Linked DNA regions of Homo sapiens. The protein of the gene in region 4 interacts with the protein of the main gene of each other region in a biochemical or structural test. Each region holds a gene or a part of one and is shown on either strand. Other genes may lie near its edges.

The links. Proteins that work in one complex are often made in the same cells at the same time.
Region 1: the proteins of PLEKHG7 (region 4) and FRMPD3 interact in a test that uses a peptide from one of them, tested with the Homo sapiens proteins (one large-scale study listed by IntAct).
Region 2: the proteins of PLEKHG7 (region 4) and PALS2 interact in a test that uses a peptide from one of them, tested with the Homo sapiens proteins (one large-scale study listed by IntAct).
Region 3: the proteins of PLEKHG7 (region 4) and FRMPD4 interact in a test that uses a peptide from one of them, tested with the Homo sapiens proteins (one large-scale study listed by IntAct).

The regions. Positions count from the first base shown.
Region 1 is NC_000023.11:107,456,148-107,459,703, forward strand, and holds part of FRMPD3 (FERM and PDZ domain-containing protein 3), read left to right. Parts: intron 1-3,556.
Region 2 is NC_000007.14:24,674,448-24,678,003, forward strand, and holds part of PALS2 (protein PALS2), read left to right. Parts: intron 1-3,556.
Region 3 is NC_000023.11:12,704,969-12,708,524, forward strand, and holds part of FRMPD4 (FERM and PDZ domain-containing protein 4), read left to right. Parts: intron 1-1,857; coding exon 1,858-1,947; intron 1,948-2,500; coding exon 2,501-2,683; intron 2,684-3,556. UniProt on the Homo sapiens protein: Positive regulator of dendritic spine morphogenesis and density. Required for the maintenance of excitatory synaptic transmission. Binds phosphatidylinositol 4,5-bisphosphate.
Region 4 is NC_000012.12:92,758,458-92,762,013, forward strand, and holds part of PLEKHG7 (pleckstrin homology domain-containing family G member 7), read left to right. Parts: intron 1-3,294; coding exon 3,295-3,374; intron 3,375-3,556.

The DNA of each region.
Region 1 (3,556 bases), on a different chromosome or scaffold from region 4:
CAAACTCCTGGGCTCAAGTGATCCTCCCACCTTAGCCTCTCGAGTTGCTAGCTAATTTTTAGTGTTTCATAGAGACAGGGTCTTGTTGTGTTGCCTAACCTGGTCTCCAATTCCTGGGCTCAAGCAATCCTCCCACTTCAGCCTCCCAAAGCACTGGGATGACAGGCATGAGCCACTGTGCCCAGCCTGTCTTTACTTTTTCTTATAAATATTTTCAACCTCAAAAAAATTAGAGAAAATAGTATAGTAACCCCCACATACTCATTATCCACATTAACTAGTTATCAGGACTTTGCCATGTTTGCTTCACCTATCATGCCAAACATCGATCACATCATTTTATTCCTAATATTTCTCTATGCATTTCTTAAAAACTGGACATTTTCTAACATAACTACAGAACTGCTAATACACCTAACAAAAGTAACAATAATGCCTTTGTATTATCCATTACCCTGTCCATAATCATATGCCCTCAATTGTCTCAAAACATGTTTTACAGTTGGCTTGTTTGACGGACGTTCCAAAAAAGTTCCACACGTGACATTTGGTTGTTATGTCTCTAAAGGCCCTTTCAACAGCCCTCTCTCTTTGACTTGTCACAGAAATCAGGTTGTTTGCTCTGCACAATTCCCACATTCTGGTTTGTCCTCTTATTGCCAGTTAGCTTGTTCACCTATCCCCTATATTTTCTATAAATGGAAGTTAGCTCTGGGCTTGATTAGATTCAAGCTCATTTTTCTTTTTTTCTCGCTTTGGCATAATGATTAAAACAAGATCATTCTGGAGGCAGGAAGACCAGTTAGCCGGTTGTTACCATAGCTGGTTGGGGACAGAAAGAAGATGGGTGAATGTATTTGGAGGTAGAGGAAACCTGATTTACCTACCAATTGAATGCGTGGGGTGAGGAAGAAGGAAGAGTCAAAGATGATTCTAAGGCTTTGAGCCTGCATAACCAGGAGGGTACCAATGTCATCCTATGAGAAGGATGAGTTTTTAATGAGAGCAGCAGGTATCATGGTTAGATTAAAGGAGGAACTTTCTCACTTTCTCACAGTAAGAGGCCATCTGCTCTGTTTTTTTTTTCCAGATAATACTATCTTTCCCAGAAAAAAATTTGATTCGTGGTATAGCTAAACATTTGATAATGTTTGGAAAACATTTGGAAAGGGACTCCGTATTTTTTGTTAACTGCAAATAGTTAAATTTCCAGCTCCAGGGCCTTGAGAGGGAGGATAGTATATACAATTCTGGATAGAGAGAAGGTAATGCTGATATCTCCCTTGCAGATGAGCCTACTGTCCCATATCATCATGGGTTTCTGAGTCATCAGGCTTGGGTAGGAGAGTGTAGGATGCCAGAACCTGGGATTTCTCTAGACACAGCCAATGAGCATAGCTCAAGATCCATGTCTTTCCTTGATATTGGCTGAAGTCTCTATCCCACACCCACTCTTCCACCCAATATGGAGGCTGTGTGGACCCTCAGTGGACCATGGCAACAGTGTTCTTGCCAAAGTCAAAAATTGCCTAAAAGCCCTGGGATATTCACTGGACTCTGACAAAGCCCCAAGATTATTTCGACACCTCAGTAGGAACTTGCTTAACTCGTTGAATTGGATTAGGTGAGAACTACTCTCAGCTCCATCCCATCATACCCTCCTTCATAAAGGCTTTTCTCTCTCTTCCTTCCCCTAGCTCATCTTTCTTCTTGCTTTTTCTTCTGCTCCCCCCTCCCTGCTCTTTCTCTTCCAGCGTACATTTATTCTCTCAAGTTAATCAAACACTGGCCCCTACAGCCCATTGTGCCTCAGATTGATCACTTAAGTAGCGTTATTGATTGCCCAGAAAACCTTAGGAGGTGGGAGTGTTCTGAAAGCTAGGATCTGACAGCTGATTGGCTGCCTATGTCTCACTCGGCAGCCTCAGCTCCTCTGCCGTCTGGAACATCTTTTGAGAAAGGTGAGGGAATGAACAGCGGAGATCCTTAGCGGGCTTCACTTATCTCATCCTTCCTTCATACTGGAGTTAAGGCATGGGAAGAGAAGTCTATTGACCACTCCAGGATCTAGCCCTGTACTAATGTTATGGTGAGAAGGGGAAAGCAAAGGCCCTGCTCTCTGGAAATCCGTAATTTAACAGAAAAATAATACTCATTCATATGAAGTAACTAAGAATAATACAAGATGGAAAACAATTATGTGCCACATTTTTTTGCTCTAAACAGTAAGCACTGTAGGGGTTCAAAGCACAGAGAGAATGAGAGTGTGGGCTGGAATGAGGGGAGAAGTCTTCCCAGAAGAAGTTGAACCTGCGTTATGTTTTGAGTAACATGTGAGATTGAGATTGTTGACTAGAAAAGGAACAGGCTTCTGAGGGGGAGGCACAGCATAGGGAAAAGGCTGGAGATGGAAATGGTCAGGGTGTTATCAAGAAAGGGTCAGAAAGAAGTCTGACTAGAGGAGAGGGTGTATATGCAGGCACAGTGGGGAAAAAATGATTGGCTGGGTATGGGACTCCCAGATTTGAAGAGTCTCTGATGTCAGAAGAAGTTTGGACTTGGGTAAACCTTGGGGGCTGTCGGACAATTATGCATAGTGATTCAGGATGGTTAGCTATGCAGTTGGAAGCAGAATTGATTGGAATAGGGAGAGACTTGAGACCAGCCTATAAGATACTACAGCAATCTAAGTGAGAGGTGATAAGGGTGGTGGCAGTGGGCATAGAGAGGAGGGTCAAATCCAAAAGGCTCTCAAGGCATCGGTGTGGCTGATAAACCACCAAGTAGATTTTCTTGACTTGTTTTTGTCTCACTCGCTCCTTCCTCTTAGCCTCAATACTTACACTTTCTTTGCCTCATGCCCTCAGGACCTTAAGGTGGCAGAGTTTCTGGAGCTAAGATAACATTGGGCATTATAATCAGTTATCCTTTCCAAGTAAAGTAGATGCGCACAGGGGCCTTCAGTACCATGACCTGAAAGAGTGAGCAATGAGGAATCTGGCTGCAGAATGCAGTTGAGATGATAGCCAAGCTGGGGTGCTGAGTATTACATCCCCCAACAGGGAGGCCGGAGGCAGGCGATGCCTGTGTCTGGTCTGTTTCAAGTCCCCCAAGGCTTCTGAGAGCTGGTAAGAGTGAGGAAACATCTTTCAACTTCCCTGGTAGAATCAGTTTGAAAACTCTTCTGAGCACTTGGGAATCATCTCAGTGAAGGTCACACCTGTGCCAGAGTATGGCAAGAGCTACCACAGCACTTTGATGCCAGCTGGAGCCCTGTTGCAGCTGGTATAAGGAAACTAAGTGAGGAGTCCACAGGTTGATGGGAGAGTCATGGCCAGGGCCTCTGCCTGCTAAATTGCCTCCCCCACCAACTTTCCCCTCCCCACCCAATCCACTGAATATCAGCCCTGGATAGGTGTCTGGGCCAGGTCTGCCAGCCCTGGATTGGAGGGAAATAGAGAACTGCAGATAAAGGGATATTTGTGAGATTTTAGTCTCCTTTTACTTGTTCTTCTTGTGGGAGCATATGATGCCTTGTAAAGATGAATGAGTACAG
Region 2 (3,556 bases), on a different chromosome or scaffold from region 4:
AGACAATTATCAAGGGCTTAAAGCCCTCCACAGAACCTTTTCTTAGAATGAATGGGTTTAGTTCAACCATCATACATCTTCAGGGTAATGAACATGCTGCTGGACAACTGGCACTCTGGAAGAGCCTGGTCAGCTCTGTCTGTAACTGTGCTCTTCAACAGCACCATCTCCTCTCAAAGTATTTTCTTTCACTTGTGATTGCTTGTTTGATCCATTGGTTATTTGGGAGTATATTGCTTATTTTCCATATATTTTTGAATTTCTAAAATTTTCTGTTATAAAATTAAGGTGATTTAACTTTCTTTATATATTACAAAATGATCCTAAGATAAAATAGAAAAACATTGTTATTTTAGGGAGATGGGCTATGTTATGCATCCTGTTTTCAATTTAACATTGACATCTTGACATCTTGAGCTTAGTTAACAAATGAAGTATTACTTTGTTGATTGTGTCTTCATTATTTGAAGAGCAGCTAAAATTGAGAATTTTGCCTATCATAAAAAATTACTTCTAAAAAATCACATTATGTAGTTGCGCAGTATAGAAGTCTAAGGAATCAGTTGTAGTCAAACCTTCATGTTCTAATTTCTCTGTTCTAGAAATGGAAAGCAGTTTAAATATGTGGCAACGTAGATTGTTTTTTGAAGTGTTAGTAGAGAATAGGATTGTAGTTAAAATTCACTTGTAAACTAAAGAACATTTCTCTAAGAATTAAGATTCCCTCAGCATGGAGGTAGAGGTAATACATGTGCATATACATATTTATTTCAAGCAGCGCATTCCCCTATATGGTTTCACTGTAGGACTTCACCGAAAAAACATTAATTTTTAAAATTAATGTTCACAATGTTGAACCAAGTCCTATTATGCATTTATTTGGGGAGTTACAAGTTGCCTTAGAAGTTTTTTTATTTTTTTATTTTTTTAAGGTTTTTTTTTTTCCCCTCTTATTATTATACTTTTAAGTTTTAGGGTACATGTGCACAATGTGCAGGTTAGTTACATATGTATACATGTGCCATGGTGGTGTGCTGCACCCATTAACTCGTCATCTAGCATTAGGTATATCTCCCAGTGCTATCCCTCCCCCCTCCCCCCACCCCACAACAGTCCCCAGAGTGTGATGTTCCCCTTCCTGTGTCCATGTGTTCTCATTGTTCAGTTCCCACCTATGAGTGAGAATATGCGGTGTTTGGTTTTTTGTTCTTGCGATAGTTTACTGAGAATGATGATTTCCAATTTCATCCATGTCCCTACAAAGGACATGAACTCATCATTTTTTATGGCTGCATAGTATTCCATGGTGTATATGTGCCACATTTTCTTAATCCAGTCTATCATTGTTGGACATTTGGATTGGTTCCAAGTCTTTGCTATTATGAATAATGCCGCAATAAACATACGTGTGCATGTGTCTTTATAGTAGCATGATTTATAGTCCTTTGGGTATATACCCAGTAATGGGATGGCTGGGTCAAATGGTATTTCTAGTTCTAGATCCTTGAGGAATCGCCACACTGACTTCCAGAATGGTTGAACTAGTTTACAGTCCCACCAACAGTGTAAAAGTGTTCCTATTTCTCCACATCCTCTCCAGCACCTGTTGTTTCCTGACTTTTTAATGATTGCCATTCTAACTGGTGTGAGATGGTATCTCATTGTGGTTTTGATTTGCATTTCTCTGATGGCCAGTGATGGTGAGCATTTTTTCATGTGTTTTTTGGCTGCATAAGTGTCTGTCCATGTCCTTCGCCCACTTTTTGATGGGGTTGTTTGTTTTTTTCTTGTAAATTTGTTTGAGTTCATTGTAGATTCTGGATATTAGCCCTTTGTCAGATGAGTAGGTTGGGAAAATTTTCTCCCATTTTGTAGGTTGCCTGTTCACTCTGATGGTAGTTTCTTTTCCTGTGCAGAAGCTCTTTAGTTTAATTAGATCCCATTTGTCAATTTTGTCTTTTGTTGCCATTGCTTTTGGTGTTTTAGACATGAAGTGCTTGCCCATGCCTGTGTCCTGAATGGTAACGCCTAGGTTTTCTTCTAGGGTTTTTATGGTTTTAGGTCTAACGTTTAAGTCTTTAATCCATCTTGAATTGATTTTTGTATAAGGTGTAAGGAAGGGATCCAGTTTCAGCTTTCTATGTATGGCTAGCCAGTGGTCCCAGCACCATTTATTAAATAGGGAATCCTTTCCCCATTGCTTGTTTTTCTCAGGTTTGTCAAAGATCAGATAGTTGTAGATACGCGGCGTTATTTCTGAGGGCTCTGTTCTGTTCCATTGATCTGTATCTCTGTTTTGGTACCAGTCCCATGCTGTTTTGGTTACTGTAGCCTTGTAGTATAGTTTGAAGTCAGGTAGTGTGATGCCTCCAGCTTTGTTCTTTTGGCTTAGGATTGACTTGGTGATGCAGGCTCTCTTTTGGTTCCATATGAACTTTAAAGTAGTTTTTTCGAATTCTGTGAAGAAAGGCATTGGTAGCTTGATGGGGATGGCATTGAGTCTGTAAATTACCTTGGGCAGTATGGCCATTTTCACGATATTGATTCTTCCTACCCATGAGCATGGAATGTTCTTGCATTTGTTTGTATCCTCTTTTATTTCGTTGAGCAGTGGTTTGTAGTTCTCCTTGAAGAGGTCCTTCACATCCCTTGTAAGTTGGATTCCTAGGTATTTTATTCCTTTGAAGCAATTGTGAATGGGAGTTCACTCATGATTTGGCTCTCTGTCTGTTGTTGGTGTATAAGAATGCTTGTGATTTTTATGCATTGATTTTGTATCCTGAGACTTTGCTGAAGTTGCTTATCAGCTTAAGGAGATTTTGGGCTGAGACAATGGGGTTTTCTAGATATACAATCACGTCATCTGCAAACAGGGACAATTTGACTTCCTCTTTTCCTAATTGAATACCCTTTATTTCCTTCTCTTGCCTAATTGCCCTGGCCAGAACTTCCAACACTATGTTGAATAGGAGTGGTGAGAGAGGGCATCCCTGTCTTGTGCCAGTTTTCAAAGGGAATGCTTCCAGTTTTTGCCCATTCAGTATGATATTGGCTGTGGGTTTGTCATAGATAGCTCTTATTATTTTGAGATACGTCCCATCAATACCTAATTTATTGAGAGTTTTTAGCATGAAGGGCTGTTGAATTTTGTCAAAGGCCTTTTCTGCATCTATTGAGATAATCATGTGGTTTTTGTCTTTGGTTCTGTTTATATGCTGGATTACATTTATTGAGAAGTTTTATTATACACACCTTTGGTGACTAATTCCAGAAACCTTAAAGATCACACAGTTTTAAATATGAAAAGCCATCATAGCATCTTGAAGATTCTCAAAGATACTTTATAAATACTCTTCACAGTAGTCTAAGACGACCACTCTCAAGGTTGAGCCAGAAAACAAGGGGAAAACAGGAGTCCTATTATACATAATGATCTCATTTGACCCTTATTTTTGAGCATGAGTTTGAAGTTCATTTTGTTCTTATAAAAGTTTTCTATGTCTTAGGCTTATTAGAAATAGTCAAAACACTGTCATCTTTTTATTCGGATTACTTT
Region 3 (3,556 bases), on a different chromosome or scaffold from region 4:
ATCCTGTGTATTCTGGGATGTTTAGCGGCACCCCTGGTCTCTACCCACAAGATGCCAGTAGCACCCTCCCGTGATCGTGACAAACAAAAATGTCTCCAGACATTGCCAAATGTGCTCCCGGGAACAAAATCACCCCTATTGACAAACAATGGATTCAATCCTACCTTTGGAGGGAAGATAAAATTATTGCTGTCATTCACCATCATTAGTGTTAAAATCTTTTTATGCTTTTGTTTTTGTTTTCATTAAGTAAGAGAAACACAAAGGAAATTTTAAAATATACTGTTGGTCAGAAAAGAGAGGTATAGTTTATAGGTAATAAAAAGCAAAGGATTCCAGGAACCAGAAAGAGAAGGAGCCTTAAAATACTGGATCTATAAAATTGGAAGCAGTCTTATAACTGAAGAACACTTTCCAATTGATATTAGCTGGAGAAATTTGTGTGACTCTAATACAAATCACTGTTTACGTGGAGAACCATTTTGTCTTAGTATCTGATTTTTTTAAGTCATTTTTACTGGGTAAGGTACATTTATTTCTATCCCCTCCTCACCCCACGACAATTTTTTTTTTTAAGTATAATCAGTTTCAACACACTATCAGCCACCTTTAACTCACTTCCCAATTTCATGGGAAGGATGTCTTTGATCACAGTGAGCATTCAGCTTACAGAGATGTAGCAAGATGATGTGGGTCAAGTTCTTTTTAACTTCAGTTCTGATTTGCTGGAAGCTAATTTCTATAATTGACTTGTGATTTTTTTTTCAAGCCTGGCCCACTCGTAATAATTTGGATAACTGCTATAAGATCAATCAACCTATCCATTTATCCATCACTGTCCTTTAAAGGTTGTTTTTCTAGCCAAGAGTGAATAGTTTGCTTTCAAAACAATTTGCAAATGCTTTGCATTTTTGAAAGAAGTAGGATGGATGAATGGTGCTAAGTAACAATTACATAAAGAGCAGTGCCTTTATGTATAGTTAACAAATAAGTTGGCAAGCCATCTGCAAGTGAAAATAGAATTTTATGGTCATTGCCACTTAATGGTGGTCTACACCTTGTTGGAAAATTTCAACCTTAATAAACATCCCTGGCACATTCAGTATGAAACATGGACCTTTTTTTTTTTTAAATCAAATACTCTTTTTAGTGATATGGGATCCTACATTTTTAAGTCTTTGTAAAGATAACTTTTATCTGGATAAAATTTCATTTATAAATCACTTGTGAAACTCAACAGATTTTCCAAGTTGAATTAATAAAACAGAGCCTTATTTAGCAAGTTCAAACATTTCCACAATGATTGGCTCTCAGAAAGTTCATTTCCCCCGAAAACTTGCAAGGACTGGAAGAAACTTGAGAGGGGAAGTGTAAAGGGCCTGTTTAGAAGGCTTTGCCTAGATTGCAGGTGCGTATTCAAAATGATTCCCACAAAGTCTGCATTCAGGTGAGTCTCTTGTGCAATGGGAATATAGGTAGACACCTCACCTTTGTCCCTAATTGCAAGTAGAAGGCCCACTCACCTCTTGAAATCTCCCAGTGAGCAGATGTTCAATGGAACATTTTATGGTCTTGTTCTCACTTGCTGAGTGCCCTGGCCCAGCATATCTATACCCATGAGTGCCCCATACATTGACCCCCTAATAAATAAGATTTGAATCTTGATTTTATGTTCCAGTCCTTCATCAGGAAACCAAATATGTAGCAATTTTATTCCTAATGAATAGTCTTTGTCACATCTCAACTTTTCAGCCGTAAAATCATCCTTCTATCTTACACTTGTTTTCTGCTAGTCTCCAGCTGAAATGGAGTCATACCCAATAGAGTTAACACCTGAGGTTTCTTTTCTCTCCTCAGCTCTCTGCACTACAAGCCAAGGTCCATTATCTCAAGTTCCTCAGTGACCTACGATTGTATGGGGGCCGTGTGTTCAAGGCAACATTAGTGGTAATTTCTTTTTTTTTTTTTTTTTTGCTTTCTCTTGGAAGCCACAGCAGCTCATTCCGCCTCTGATGACAAAAGCAAATCAGCTGTGAATCTTCTCCAGCCTTCATTTCTAACCAACTTCACAACAGTCTGAAAATATCAGAAGAAATGTTAAACTAGATAACACCACTGCAGAATGCCCTAGAAAAAGAAATGTGAAGAACCGAGAGAATCAAAGGATTCTAACAATGGCCTTCTTTTAAATCATTGAGCCAGAAGTTGCTTTCACAGTGAAAAAAGGAAAACCAAAAAGAAAAAAACAAACCTCATTTCTAAAAGGATCTTATGATTATGAACATACTGTGCTATAACATTTACTTTCTAATTACTCATGATTTATCAGAGCCTCAATTCAGTCATGTATCTGGTTCTTCTAATTGGATGATTTAGTACAGTATGACCCAGAAACACTTTCTAAAGAAAATATAATCTTATAAAAATAGGATCATAGGTTCAAGTTGGCATAGCATTTCAGAGGTTCAGTATTTTTATGTTGTCAACTTCTCTTTCTCAGCAGGCAGAAAAGCGCTCGGAAGTGACTCTCCTGGTTGGGCCCCGGTATGGCATAAGCCATGTCATCAACACCAAAACCAATCTGGTGGCTCTTTTAGCCGACTTTAGCCACGTCAACAGGATCGAAATGTTTTCCGAGGAGGAGAGCTTGGTGCGGGTAGAACTCCACGTGCTAGATGTGAAGGCAAGTTTCTCAGGTGTTGACACATGGCCTTGCTGTCAACAGCTAATTTCTGATAACACTGCAGATGTTTACAAGGCAGGCAAAAGTCAATGTGTGCAGAGCATCACAGATGCAATGTGGTGCAGAAAATAATCCACCAACTCAGGCCTGAGGGCTCCAGTCCTCACTAAATCGCTGTGTGATTGGGAACAGGTCGCTATAATTCTCTGCGCTCAATTTTTTTATTCATACGTGAGAAAGCAAGCTACATAATTTCTAGGTCCCTTCTGACTTTAGAATATGTGATTTCTAGGTATAGAGTAGGGGAAACTTTTCTGAACTAACTTTCTAGAATATATGACTCAAATCAAGAGGGAGATTTTTCCCAACTTTCTTTAGAATTCTCACTCCCTTTGCTTACGTTAGGTCCATATGTGTTTATTCTTTTGGAAAAGCTTGATGTTTTAGTTCATCTGTCTTCTCATATGGTAGCAATTGGTACTGACTGAACATCTGGCTCCTATGAATGTCATGGCCATTCCATTTAAAACAAAAATCTGGCCAGGTGCGGTGGCTGATGCCTGTAATCTCAGCACTTTGGGAGGCCGAGGCGGGCGGATCACGAGGTCAAGAGTTCAAGACCAGGCTGACCAACATGGTGAAACCCCATCTCTACTAAAAATACAAAAATTAGCCGGGCGTGGTGGCGTGCACCTGTAATCCCAGCTACTCAGGAGGCTGAGGCAGGAGAATTGCTTGAACCCAGAGGTGGAGGTTCCAGTGAGCCGAGATCGTGCCATTGAACTTCAGCCTGGGTAACAGAGCGAGACTCCATCTCAAAAAAAAAAAAAAAACACAAAAATCTGAGATGGTCCACAAAGGGCAAAACTCTAC
Region 4 (3,556 bases):
CAGGTTTGGGCATAATGAGAACCCACATGGAAGCTGGAGGAGCAGCTCCTGGTGGGTGAAAGTCTAAGTCAGATGTGAATTCATGCATCGCATGGGTTCAAAGTGACTGTCATAGATGTATGGGTTGGAAGCTCACCTAAGAAAGACTCTTTACAAACAGACTCAACTTTTCCAGAAAATGCTTCTTGTACAGTCAAATGTGGTAGTATGGACATGAACTACATAATGTCACTAACACCAGGCACTTGTTTAATGGCATATGCTGTATTAGTCAAATTCCATCAGAGATGGAGACTCCATATGATGTAGTCTACATGGCATCAAGCCAAGTGCAAAGTCCTGAGACTGGACTCAGAGTTGAGCATCGAGATTTGATGGGGCAGGGTGATAGTGTTAGAAGAAACAGGACATTTCACTTCTTGGTCTTTTGGCTAAGATCAAGTGAGGAAACAGGACATCATTTTAAATGAAAAAAGCATTGAACCAACAGTCAGGGGATCTAGCACCAATTGTAGGCTTTGGGAAAATTTAAATTCTCTTATTCTCTTTTATAAATGTTATTGCTGCTGCTGATAATGATGATGACAATGAGGATGAAAATGATGTGATGAAACCTAACACATACTGTGTTTCCAAATTTCTCCCAGCCTTAAAAACTGTACTCTTATAATCAAATAAGTATATGTTCTCATTCCCAGAAGGTACACATTTTCATAATTTGTTTCATAACTTACTTGGTGGAAAACTAGGGCCTCAATAAATGGTAGATAAAATAATTACCACTTTCTAGAATAATGTCTGTAACATTATCTAGAATAACATCTGGAATACGTAGAAGGTGTGCTCCCTGCCTGTTTGTCAAAATAAAATAGTTGAAATTAGAAGGAGAAAACAAAACTATTTCATTTTGACAATGATCATTGAGCTGACGCATACATGAGTAGCAGAAGATGGGAATAGCAAATTTTACAGGTTTGAAGGTTGCTGTGGACTGAATTGTGTTCTTCCATTGCTGTGGACTGAATTGTGTTCTTCCACAAATCACATGTTGAAGCCTTAATGTCCAGTATGACTATACTTGGAATAAGGAAGAAATGCAGGTAAAATGAGGGACTCAGGCTGGAGCCTTGATCTGATAGGATTAGTATCCTAATCAGAGCAGACATCAGAGAGCTCACTCTCTCTGTTTGCCATGTAAGAACACATGCAGAAACCCAAAAAGAAAGCCCTTATCAGGAACTGAATCGACCAGCACCTTGATCTACTTCCCAGGCTCCAGAACTGTGAGAAATAAATTCCTATTGCTTAAGCCACCCTGTCTGTGGTATTTTGCTATGGCAGGCTCAGCTGGCTGTTCACAGGTCTAGTGCTGTACCATTCCTAGCCCTGTATATCAGTTGGCATATAGATTCAGCCACTGGAGACGGACAGGTTAAAAAAGATAGTTTATTTCTCTCTTGTTAAGTCTCAACCTATATGACAACTCCACTCCATGAAGTCATTAGGAATCCAGATTCCTGCTGTCTTATTCCCAAATCTAGGGAACTGCCTTCTTCTGTGTGGCCCAAGATGACTCACCAATATGTCTGTATTCTACCCAGTGAGAAGGAGAGACAGAGACAAGAGAGCTTAGCCCTGCCCTTCACGAATATGACTCAGAAGTTGCATGCTTTGGCTCACATTCCATTGGTCAGAATTTAGCTCCTTGGTCATATTCAGCAGCAAGGAAATGTAGTCTCTGTTCTCTGAGGATGGGTACTCACTAAAACTTGGGGATTCTACTGCTACAAGAGAAGGGGAGAATGGTTTTCAAGGGACAACCAGAAGTCTTTGCCACAACTTGATTTATGAAAAGTTAAGTTTTTAATATGATTTTTAAAAAAACTATTCAAGGACTATTTAATTTGAATAAAATACCAGATTTCTCCCCTATGCAAATATAGAAAAAATCTTTTCTCTAAACTTAAAGAATGAGAGGAGATAGAAATGAATCCTAAATGTTTTAGCTACTACTTTAAATCTTCTAGGGGTAAAAACATATAAGAAAGAACTTCTAGAACAATATATATATATAATCTAAATAGAACAAGCTGAAAAAAATTTACTGGGTTTTCCTATGATTACTCTAAGCACTTGTCACATCTCCCTCTAAAAACCTTTTCCTCTGAAATCACTTAAATTTAACCCTTTTTTCTAATTTCTAAGGGATAGAGTAAAATAAGGAAGGAGATGCCTTATTCTGATACTTGGTTTCTCTTCTACTACTATTCCCTTCTTAGGGAAAACTAAAGAAAAGCTATTTGCCTTAAGTAACTATTAAAACTAATATCAGAAAAGTTTGTAAATATGAAACAGATGGAGAATATCTAAACATTTATAGACACTTTCTAAAACTTGAGAAATAAGTAGTTTTAATGACTGTCAACCTAGGCCGCCATAACAAAATATCACAGACAGGCTGACTTAAACAGCAGAAATTTATGTCTTACAATCTGGAGGCTGAAAAGTCCCAGGCCAAGGTGATGGCAAATTCAGTTCCTGATGAGCGCTCTCTTCAAGACAAGGAGTGGGGGATAGGGTGGAGGTATCCGGTGTCTCAAAGAACACTAATGCTACTGGATCAGTGCACCAGCCTTATCACTTCATTTTACCCTAATTACTTTCTTACTCCAAATGCAGCCACCCTAGTGGTTTAGGGCTTCAACATATGAAATTTGAGTGACACAATAGCATAATTCATAGCAGTGAGAAAATGCCTTTTCTCTGGTTATGTGTGCCTTTGCCAATAACCACCCAGAGGAATCTAGAGGCAAAAATGCTGCAAGTTCAATCAGTTGATAGATTTACCCTCGGCTGAGTTGAAGCCACTACAAATAACATCTGAGTTATCTTAGATTCAAATGAGACGCATCATAAATTCAATGTCTTTAATGTTGGAAGCTTGGCCTCTCATCAAGTCTCTGCTTTAGGAAGAAATCAATTCAACATTGAGGCAGGCAGCTTTCTGACCTACATGATTGGAGCCCCTGGGGTGCCGTAATACTCACCCAGTTTTGTTTTCTAAGGAATTCATTGATTAAAAAAAAGAGAGAAAGAAAGAAAGAAGGAAGGAAGGAAGGAAGGAAAGAGAGAATGAAAAGAAAGAAAGAAAAAGAAAGAAAGAAAGAAGAAAGAAAGAAAGAAAGAAAGAAAGAAAGAAAGAAAGAAAGAAAGAAAGAAAGAAAGAAAGGGAAAGAAAAACTCTTCTACTTAACAGTTTCAGGTCCCCATTTCAGCTTCTCTTTTTTTCCTCAGAAAGCACGAGATTCCTAGATGTTTATCTGTTTCTCTTCAATGATTTCCTCTTAGTTACGAAAACTAAGTGCAACAAAAAGGTAAAATGCTGCTATTTCAAAGTACGTTTCTAAACAAGTTTGCTAAATGAGTTTAGAAATATTTCTAAATAAACTGTGGTAAAAATATAAAATATTCTTAAGCTGAATCTTTTCCTCTAAAAAATGAAGGCATTATAAACTATTGGCTTTTTTAGTCATAAAGCTCTGAAGTAAATAAATAA